Regions from separate parts of the Homo sapiens genome. Here region 2 is linked to region 1. Evidence: fine-mapped expression QTL. A gene starts in region 1. The other region holds a variant in brackets. All regions are shown on one strand. Distances are between the middles of the regions. Region 1 holds the start of KLHL9 (kelch like family member 9). Region 2 overlaps LOC107987053 (a long non-coding RNA gene).

The links. PIP is the estimated chance that this variant, and not a neighbour inherited with it, causes the effect.
Region 2: its variant is fine-mapped to the expression of KLHL9 in whole blood (INTERVAL, PIP above 0.99).

Annotation. Positions count from the first base shown.
Region 1 is chr9:21,332,592-21,337,976 of GRCh38, reverse strand. KLHL9 (kelch like family member 9) reads left to right here and starts at 2,573. Exons shown (of 1, transcript NM_018847.4): 1 at 2,573-5,385. The coding sequence starts at 3,118. The coding sequence ends at 4,971. LOC107987053 (a long non-coding RNA gene) reads right to left here. Exons shown (of 3, transcript XR_001746634.2): 3 at 676-1,356. RefSeq lists a silencer at 2,384-2,553 and enhancers at 2,594-2,903, 3,094-3,143.
Region 2 is chr9:21,271,897-21,277,281 of GRCh38, reverse strand. All of the region lies in intron 2 of LOC107987053 (a long non-coding RNA gene), which reads right to left. Among named protein-coding and RNA genes, the nearest start is that of IFNA5, 31 kb to the left of the region's middle. The variant C/T (reference allele first, on the strand shown) is at 2,434.

The DNA.
Region 1 (5,385 bases):
TTCCTTTATTCACTTTTCTATCCTGAAAAGTCACATATCAAGTGTTTCATACAGTGTGAATGGAATGAATGAACTGAACTTCACTTGAGGTTGCAAAACCAACCTTGGCATTGATTTATTGAGTAAGGCCAGGTATGGTGGCTCATGCCAGTAATCCCAGCAGTGTGGGAGGCTGAGGTGGGAGGATTGTTGAGGCTAGGAGTTTGAGGCTGTAGTGAGCTATGAACCTGCCACTGCACTCCAGCTTAGTGACAGAGCAAGACCTTGTGTTTGTTTTTTTTAAATAAACAAATGCAAAATGATCTGAAAGTAAAACTCGAAATAATAAAGAGAATAATTTTCAAAATATAAAGTGAGGGGCCAGGCATGGTGGCTCACGCCTGTAATCCCAGCACTTTGGGAGGCTGAGGCAGGCGGATCACAAGGTCAGGAGTTTGAGAGCAGACTGGCCAGCATGGTGAAACTCTATCTCTACTAAAAATACAAAAAATTAGCTGGGCATGGTGGCGCGCACCTGTAGTCCCAGCTACTCGGGACGCTAAGGCAGGAGAATTGCTTGACCCTGGGAGGCGGAGGTTGCAGTGAGCCGAGATCGCACCACTGTACTCCAGCCTGGGTGACAGAGCGAGACTCCGTCAAAACAAAACAAAACAAAACAAACAAACAAAATATACATAAAGTGAACACTTTTTAATGTAATTAGCACAGTGTTAAAAGTGAACATTTCATACAAGCAAAAATACTGAATACAATAAATGTAGTAGAATCAATAATTAAGTACATGGGTAAATTAATAATATCATCCATGGTGAGCTAATGCCCCTAAGAACTGGATGCTTTATCATACAGTTGCTTGACATTACCAACAAGTATTGTGACAAATTTGATTCAATCATTTCATTATGCAGGCAGAAAAGATAGTCTTTTAAAATAACTAAACATATGGGAATATAATGAAGAGTGTCTATAGTAATCATTTCATGAAGACACAAGTCTGTTCCTAAGCTATTAATCTTACTTGCAAGTTTGATGAAAAAAAGAAGGATCTCATGATTTCTTGCTCCAACTTCCCATGTACAGAGGCTCTCTTCTTTCTTTTCCAGATAGAGACTGATTCCTTGGAAGTAGCTCTTCACAGCATTAGGGAGTTGTCATGGCCTGAGAGAGCCCTTCCACCCCTAACTCATTCAACAAGCAGGGCTCCAGGACTTCCCAATGCTGATAAAAATTCAGTGAATAATTTCTCCAGGCCAGTTTCATTCCAACCAACCTCTTGTGTTGAATAAGGTGACAATCTGCTGGAGCACCTTGTGGAGGACAGTGGTAGTCTAAGCCTTCTGAATTTTGCTGCCATCCCTTGGAAACAATAGAAAACATTCAAAACAGATGAACTGCCCATCAACAGGGCACTGGTTAAATAACTTATGATGTAACAACTCAGAAGGCAACAACAGAATTGTTTAAAAATATAAATAAGCCCTCTACACTAATTCAGGAAGATCTTGAAGTGAAAAAAAAAGATGCAGAACAGTGTACATGGTATGCTATCTTTTACATAAAAACGAGGCGAGTGTAAGAAAAACATGACTACATTCTTACTTTGCATATGCATAAAGAACTAGAAGGATTTAAAAGACAGAAACTTCAAAATTTGGAAAATGGAAGAAATTGTGTCAAAGTATACATTTATTTGTATGTCAAAATTTAAATTTACCACTAATTAAAGAAATGCAAGTTAATAAAATACTCACAAAGGGAAAAGTCAGAAGAAGGGAAAGACACAAACATTGTTGGTGATAATATTTTGGAAATATTGTCTTGGATCAGTATTTTACTAAATATTATCCATAACAGGGCTAAAATTTTGCTACCAGATTGTATAAGTTTACTACCGAGTCTATAAAACAATGGAGGATAAGAAGGTACACATTCAGGAACAAACCAATGGGCAAAGGAAACTATAGTATGTATAGTTATTGGAAAATTATGTAGCCATTTTTAAAATTGTGGAAAACAAAGGCATTTCAAGCCAAAAATTTAGAATATATCATTTACATAATAAAGTAACAATCTAGTAAAGACAAATATTTTGCGTTTGAAATTGTAACAAATTTGAAAATATGAACCAAAATTGTAACTGAAGTATCTACTACATAATGTGGGATAACAATTATTGTTTTGTAGAGGAAAAAAAAAATTAAGCATCCAGGTTTCCTCTCAATTTATACAAATGCCGCATTTCACTGTTATTCAAAAAAACAGAAGCTAGGAAGCGTAAAGCTTTGAAAAATTATGCATTTGGGGAACGTAAGAGCTCAGATATGCGAAAAACTTATATCAAACGTGCAGCATAACACACTTGCTTGCACACATTCTGTCCTATTTGGTCCCACATACAAGGCAGCTCTAAGAGGCCGGGCTGGCGCCCACCCCACACAGCTCCGCTTCCCCAACCCTCGCCCTCCCGCCTCCCGGGTACTTCCTCCCCCTTCCCCACCCCCACCCTCCCGCTGACTGACGAGGTCTGGAGGCCGCGCAGCCGCAGTAGCCGCTAAGGCCGCTCCCACCCCGTGGTATCCTGGGACTAGGCTTTTCCGGAAGGAGCGGCTCGGTGTTGGGGCTAGGCCGGTATTCTAGGCCCAAGCCCAGGCCCAGGCCTGTGTTCCCGGCCCTTGCTCAAAGACAGGCCGGTGGCCGCTGCGACACTCTAGGTACAGCGGAGGGCGCAGCGGGCCGTTCGCTGAGGTGTCCGGACCCGCCGCCGAGCGGGCCGTGGAGCCACAGTACGTGGCGGCGCCTCTTCCTTGCCCGAAGCGGAACTGCTGAAGGAGCGGCAGCGCAGGCCGGACGAGGTGAACCAGGTCATTTAACCGCCTTCAGGTGATGAATCATCTGTCTAATAATCAGATTTGAGGTCCACAGCCCTTTGTGGTCCTGCTACAGGGTGATTTTCAGTGGATGACTGACTGGCGTGGCCCGAGGGGTGCCGCAGTGACTGCCTTCCCTTGATAAGGAAACGAGCTTTCTGTTCTTTCTGGACACCTCGTTACCTGTAAAACATTCCGGTTATAACTTCTTTATCCGGCTTGCATCTCTGTGCAAGAGGAAAGCTTTCACATGAAAGTGTCCCTTGGTAACGGCGAAATGGGCGTCTCTGCCCATTTGCAGCCTTGTAAGGCAGGAACCACACGCTTTTTTACCAGCAATACTCACAGTTCGGTGGTATTGCAAGGCTTTGATCAGCTTAGAATAGAAGGATTGCTTTGTGATGTGACCCTGGTACCAGGTGATGGAGATGAAATCTTCCCTGTTCACAGAGCTATGATGGCGTCTGCTAGTGATTATTTCAAAGCCATGTTCACAGGTGGAATGAAAGAACAAGATTTGATGTGCATTAAGCTTCATGGGGTGAACAAGGTTGGTCTGAAGAAAATCATTGATTTTATTTATACTGCAAAACTTTCTCTTAATATGGACAATCTTCAGGACACACTTGAAGCTGCTAGCTTTTTACAAATATTACCCGTTTTGGATTTCTGTAAAGTATTTCTTATATCAGGAGTCTCTTTGGATAACTGTGTTGAGGTTGGACGAATTGCTAACACCTACAATCTTATAGAAGTGGATAAATATGTTAATAATTTCATCCTGAAGAACTTTCCTGCTTTATTGAGTACTGGGGAGTTTCTAAAACTCCCTTTTGAACGACTTGCATTTGTGCTTTCCAGTAATAGTCTTAAGCACTGTACCGAACTTGAACTCTTTAAGGCAGCCTGTCGCTGGCTAAGGTTGGAAGACCCTCGGATGGATTATGCTGCAAAGTTAATGAAGAATATTCGATTTCCACTGATGACACCACAGGATCTCATCAATTACGTGCAGACAGTAGATTTCATGAGAACAGACAATACCTGCGTGAATTTGCTTTTGGAAGCTAGCAATTACCAAATGATGCCATATATGCAGCCAGTGATGCAGTCAGATAGAACTGCCATTCGATCTGACTCCACTCACTTGGTTACATTAGGAGGAGTTTTGAGGCAGCAGCTGGTTGTCAGTAAAGAATTACGGATGTATGATGAAAGGGCACAAGAATGGAGATCTTTAGCCCCAATGGATGCTCCCCGTTACCAGCATGGTATTGCTGTCATTGGAAACTTTCTTTATGTAGTTGGTGGTCAGAGTAATTATGATACAAAAGGAAAAACTGCTGTTGATACAGTTTTCAGATTTGATCCTCGGTATAATAAATGGATGCAGGTTGCATCATTAAATGAAAAGCGCACATTCTTTCACTTGAGTGCCCTCAAAGGACATTTGTATGCAGTTGGTGGGCGCAGTGCAGCTGGTGAACTGGCCACAGTAGAATGTTACAACCCAAGAATGAATGAGTGGAGCTATGTTGCAAAAATGAGTGAACCCCACTATGGTCATGCTGGAACAGTATATGGAGGCTTAATGTATATTTCAGGAGGAATTACCCATGACACTTTCCAAAATGAGCTCATGTGTTTTGACCCAGATACAGATAAATGGATGCAAAAGGCTCCAATGACTACAGTCAGAGGTCTGCATTGCATGTGTACAGTTGGAGATAAGCTCTATGTCATTGGTGGCAATCACTTCAGAGGAACAAGTGATTATGATGATGTTCTAAGCTGTGAATACTATTCACCAACCCTTGACCAGTGGACCCCAATTGCCGCCATGTTAAGAGGCCAAAGTGATGTTGGAGTTGCCGTCTTTGAAAATAAAATCTATGTTGTTGGTGGATATTCTTGGAATAATCGTTGTATGGTAGAAATTGTCCAGAAATATGACCCAGAAAAAGATGAGTGGCATAAAGTTTTTGATCTTCCAGAGTCACTTGGTGGCATTCGAGCCTGTACACTCACAGTTTTTCCACCTGAAGAAAACCCTGGGTCACCTTCTAGAGAATCACCTCTTTCAGCACCTTCAGATCATTCTTAGGTCTAAGGTGTAACACCTTTGCAGTACGTCATGGGTGATCTAATACTTCCCCTTCAGTTGTATCTTCTTACAGTGATTGGTACAGTTATTAGATATAAAGGTAACTGATGTTATTCGTCTTGTATGGCTTTTAGTATGTTTATCAAGTGGCTAACAAATGCATTCTGAAAATGTATTTAACATAGCTGTTTTAACAAATGAAAAAAAGACGTAGAAAAATGTTTAGATGTCTTTTTGTGATGTTATATAAAATTGTAGATGACTGTGGTAAATGTGTAATTATGTCCATTATGCTTCAAAGTTGAGTTTTCATCTTTGACTCCAAAATGTCAGAGGGAGGCCGCTCTAAACTAAAAATAACGAAAGGTTGCCAAGTATTAATACTAGTTACCTCCCTCTTTTCGTAGTTTTTGT
Region 2 (5,385 bases), 61 kb after region 1:
TTCCAGTCAGATATATGAATTTGCAATTTTCAAGAAATACAATGCCTGAAGGTTCATAACTGGCAATGGAAAGCCCAAAAATAGAGGCAGTCATGTGGAGAGGAAAAAGAAAAGTAAAGGAAAAAAGAACCTAAAATTGATTCTGAGGACCTTCCACCTTTAAAGAGAGGGGATATAAGAGACACAAAGGAAGCAAGGGTGGAAAACTGTACATTAGTGAAGGAAAGACTTAATGGTGATAAATGTGTGTCTTGAAAATAAATGTATTTAGAAGAAGAATCAATAGACTTGGGGGAAATATGGATTAAAACTGTCCACTACATCAGAAAAATAAATGGCAGTGGAGATCTTAGTGAGAGCTGCATTGGTAGAATTAATCACTATAAACCGTATTGCAGTAGGTGGAAGCATGAATCAAAGAAGGGAAATCTGTGACAAAATAGATAAGAAATAGTTGTGAGAGGTTTCCCTTTAAGATAAAGGAAAGAAATAAGGTTAGACATGAAAAAAAAAGTGGATCACATTTCATTTTACCTGCATGGTTTATCCGTTTGAAAATATATATGTCTGCAGATTGATTTCATGCATTGAAAAGCTGTTAATATACTTAATATTTTATAATATCAAATTATAACATATAAAGTTGCAATAATTATAATTTTGATTAGTACTATGTTAATTGTCAGTAAAACCTGACAAACTTCCTTCATAAAATAAAATGGAAAACTGGATGAAAGAATCGCTTTCTCAACGCTTTAAGAAAACAAAAAAAGATTGGTCACAAGTATCAATAGCCAAATCAATCAAGTGGAAGAAACGATATCAGAGATTGAAGATCAACTTAATGAAATAAAGTGTGAAGGCAAGATTAGAGAAAAAAGAATGAAAAGAAATGAACAGACTCTAAGAAATATGGGACTACGTGAAAAGACCAAACGTACGTTTGATTCGTGTACCTAAAAGTGAAGGGGAGAATGGAACCAAGTTGGGAAACACTCTTCAGGATATTACCCAGGAGAACTTCCCCAACCTGGCAAGACAGGTCAACATTCAAATTCAGGAAACACAGAGAACACCACAAAGGTACTCCTTGAGAAAAGCAAACTCAATACACATAATCGTCAGATTCACCAAGGCTGAAATGAAGGAAAAAATGTTGAGGGCAGCCAGAGAGAAAGGTCGGATTACCCAAAAAGAGAAGCCCATCAGATCAACAGTGCATCTCTCTGCAGAAACTCTACAAGCCAGTAAAGAGTGGGGCCCAATATTCAACATTCTTAAAAGAATTTTCAACCCAGAATTTCATATTCAGTCAATCTAAGCTTCATAAGCAAAGGAGAAATAAAATTCATTACAGAAAAGCAAATGCTGAGAGATTTTGTCACCACTAGGCCTGCCCTACAAGAGCTCCTGAAGGAAGCACTAAATATGAAAAGGAAAAACCAGTACCAGTCACTACAAAAACATATCAAATTGTGAAGACCATTGAAACTATGAAGAAACTGCATCAACTAATGGGCAAAATAACCAGCTAGCATCATTATGACAGGATCAAATGCACACATAACAATATTAACCTTAAATGTAAATGGGAAAAATGCCCCAATTAAAAGACACAGACTGGCAAATTGGATAGAGTCAAGACCCATCGGTGTGCTGTATTCAGGAGACCCATCTCACATGCAAAGACACATAAACTCAAAATAAAGGGATGGAGGAATATTTACCAAGCAAATGGAAAGCAAAAAAAAAAAAAAAAAAAAAAAAAAAGCTGGGGTTGCAATTCTGGTCTCTGATAAAACAGACTTTAAACCAACAAAGATCAAAAAGAAAAAGAAGACAAAGAAGGGCTTTACATAATGTTAAAGGGATCAATGCAACAAGAAGAGCTAACTATTCTAACTATATATGCACCCAATACTGGAGCACCCAGATTCATAAAGCAAGTTCTTAGAGACCTACAAAGAGGTTTAGACTCCCACACAATAATAGTGGGAGAATTTAACACCCCACTGTCAATATTAGACAGATCAACAAGACAGAAAATTAACAAGGATATTCAGGACTTGAACTCAGCTCTGGACCAAGCAGACCTAATAGACATCTGCAGAACTTTCCACCCCAAATTAACAGAATACACATTCTTCTCAGCATCACGTCACACTTATTCTAAAATTGACCACATAATTGGAAATAAAACACTCCTCAGTAAACGCAAAAGAATGGAAATCAAAACAAACAGTCTCTCAGACCACAATGCAATCAAGTTAGAACTCGGGATTAAGAAACTCACTCAAAACCCCACAACTACATGGAAACTGAACAACCTGCTCCTGAATGGCTACTGGATAAATAATGAAATTAAGGCAGAAGTACATAAGTTCTTTGAAACCAATTAGAACAAAGACACAGTGTACCAGAATCTCTGAAACA[C/T]GGCTAAAACAGTGTTTAGAGGAAAATTTATAGCACTAAATGCCCACAGGAGAAAGCAGGAAGGATCTAAAATCGACACCCTAACATCACAATTAAAAGAACTAGAGAAACAGGAGCAAACAAATTCAAATGCTAGCAGAAAACAACAAATAACTAAGATCAGAGTGTAACTGAAGGAGATAGAGACACGAAAAACCCTTCAAAGAATCAGTAAATCCAGGAGCTGGTTTTTTGGACAGATTAACAAAATAGATAGACCGCTGGCCAGACTAACAAAGAAGAAAAGAGAGAAGAATCAAATAGACACAATAAAAAATGATAAAGAGGATATCATCACTGATCCCACAGAAATACAAACTACCATCAGAGAATACTATAAACACCTCTGTGCAAATAAACTAGAAAATCTAGAAGAAATGGATAAATTCCTGGACACACACACCCTCCCAAGACTAAACTAGGAAGAAGTTGAATCCCATTTCAGCTTTCTACATATGGCTAGCCAGTTTTCCTAGCACCATTTATTAAACAGGGAATCCTTTCTCCATTTCTTGTTTTCGTCAGGTTTGTCAAAGATCAGATGGTTGTAGATGTGTGGTATTATTTCTGAGGGCTCTGTTCTGTTCCATTGGTCTATATCTCTATTTTGGTACCAGTACCATGCTGTTTTGGTTACTGTAGCCTTGAAGTATAGTTTGAAGTCAGGTAGCGTGATGCCTCCAGCTTTGTTCTTTTGACTTAGGATTGGCTTGGCAATGCGGGCTCTTTTCTGGTTCCATATGAACTTTAAAGTAGTTTTTTCCAATTATGTGAAGAAAGTCATCAGTAGCTTGATGGGGATGGCATTGAATCTATAAATTACCTTGGGCAGTATGGCCATTTTCACGATATTGATTCTTCCTACCCATGAGCATGGAATGTTCTTCCATTTGTTTGTATCCTCTTTTATTTCATTAAGCAGTGGTTTGCAGTTCTCCTTGAAGAGGTGCTTCACATCCCTTGTAAGTTGGATTCCTAGGTATTTTATTCTCTTTGAAGCAATTGTGAATGGGAGTTCACTCATGATTTGGCTCTCTGTCTGTTACTGGTGTACAGGAATGCTTGTGATTTTTGCACATTGATTTTGTATCCTGAGACTGCTTAAGTTGCTTATCAGCTTAAGGAGATTTTGGGCTGAAGTGTTTGGGTTTTCTAAATATGCAATCATGTCTTCTGCAAACAGAGACGATTTGACTTCCTCTTTTCCTAATTGAATACCCTTTATTTCTTTCTCCTGCCTGATTTCCCTGGCCAGAACTTCCAACATTATGTTGAATAGGAGTGGTAAGAGAGGGCAGAACAAAAATTAATTCAAGATGAATTAAAGACTTAAATGTTAGACCTAAAACCATAAAAACCCCAGAAGAAAACCTAGGCAATACCATACAGGACATAGGCATGGGCAAGGACTTCATGACTACAACACCAAAAGCAATGGCAACAAAAGTCAAAATTGACAAATGGGATCTAATTAAACTAAAGAGCTTCTGCACAGCAAAAGAAACTACCATCAGATTGAACAGGCAACCTACAGAATGGGAGAAAATTTTTGCAATCTACCCATCTGACAAAGGGCTAATATCAAGAATCTACAAAGAACTTAAGCAAATTTACAAGAAAAAAATCAAACAACCCCATCAAAAAGTGGGCAAAGGATAGGAACAGACGCTTCTCAAAAAAAGACATTTATGCAGCCAACAAACACATGACAAAATGCTCATCATCACTGGCCATCAGAGAAATGCAAATCAAAACCAAAATGAGATACCATCTCACACCAGTTAGAATGGCGATCATTAAAAAGTCAGGAAGCAACAGGTGCTGGTGAGGATTTGGAGAAATAGGAATACTTTTATACTGTTGGTGGGGCTGTAAACTAGTTCAACCATTGCGGAGGGCAGCATGGCGATCAGAGCTAGAAATACCATTTGAACCAGCCATCCCATTACTGGGTATATACCCAAAGGATTATAAATCATGCTGTTACAAAGACACATGCACACTTATGTTTATTGTGGCACTATTCACAATAGCAAAGACTTAGAGCCAACCCAAATGTCCATCAATGATAGACTGGATTAAGAAAATGTGGCATATATACACCATGGAATACTATGCAGTCATAAAAAAGGAGGAGTTCATGTCATTTGTAGGGACATGGATGACGCTGTAAACCATCATTCTCAGCAAACTATCGCTAGGACAGAAAACCAAACTCTGCATGTTCTCACTCATAGGTGGGAATTGAACAACGAGAACACTTGGACACAGGAAGGGGAACATCACATACTGGGGCCTGTTGTGGGGTTGGGGGAGTGGGGAGGGATAGCATTAGGAGATATACTTAATGTAAATGGCGAGTTAATGGGTGCAGCACACCAACATAGCACATGTATACATATGTAACAAACCTGCACATTGTGCACATGTACCCTAGAACTTAAAGTATAATAAAAAAAAAATTGAAAAAAAAAAGAAGTCGAATCCCTGAGTAGACCAATAACAACTTCTGAAATTGAGGCAGTAATTAATAGATTACCAACAAAAAAAGTCCAGGACAAGACGGATTCACAGCCAAATTGTACCAGAGGTACAAAGAGGAGCTGGTACCATTCCTTCTGAAACTATGCCAAACAATAGAAAAAGAAGGGCTCCTCCCTAACTCATTTTATGAGGTCAGCATCATCCTAATACCAAAAACTGGCAGAGACACATCAAAAAAAAAGAAATGTCAAGTCAATATCTCTGATGAACATCAATGCAAAAATCCTCAATAAAATACTGGGAAACCAAATCCAGCAACACATCAAAGAGCTTATCCACCAAGACCAAGTCGGCTTCATTCCTGGGATGCAAGGCTGGTTCAACATATGCAAATCAATAAACGTAATCCATCACATAAACAGAACCAAC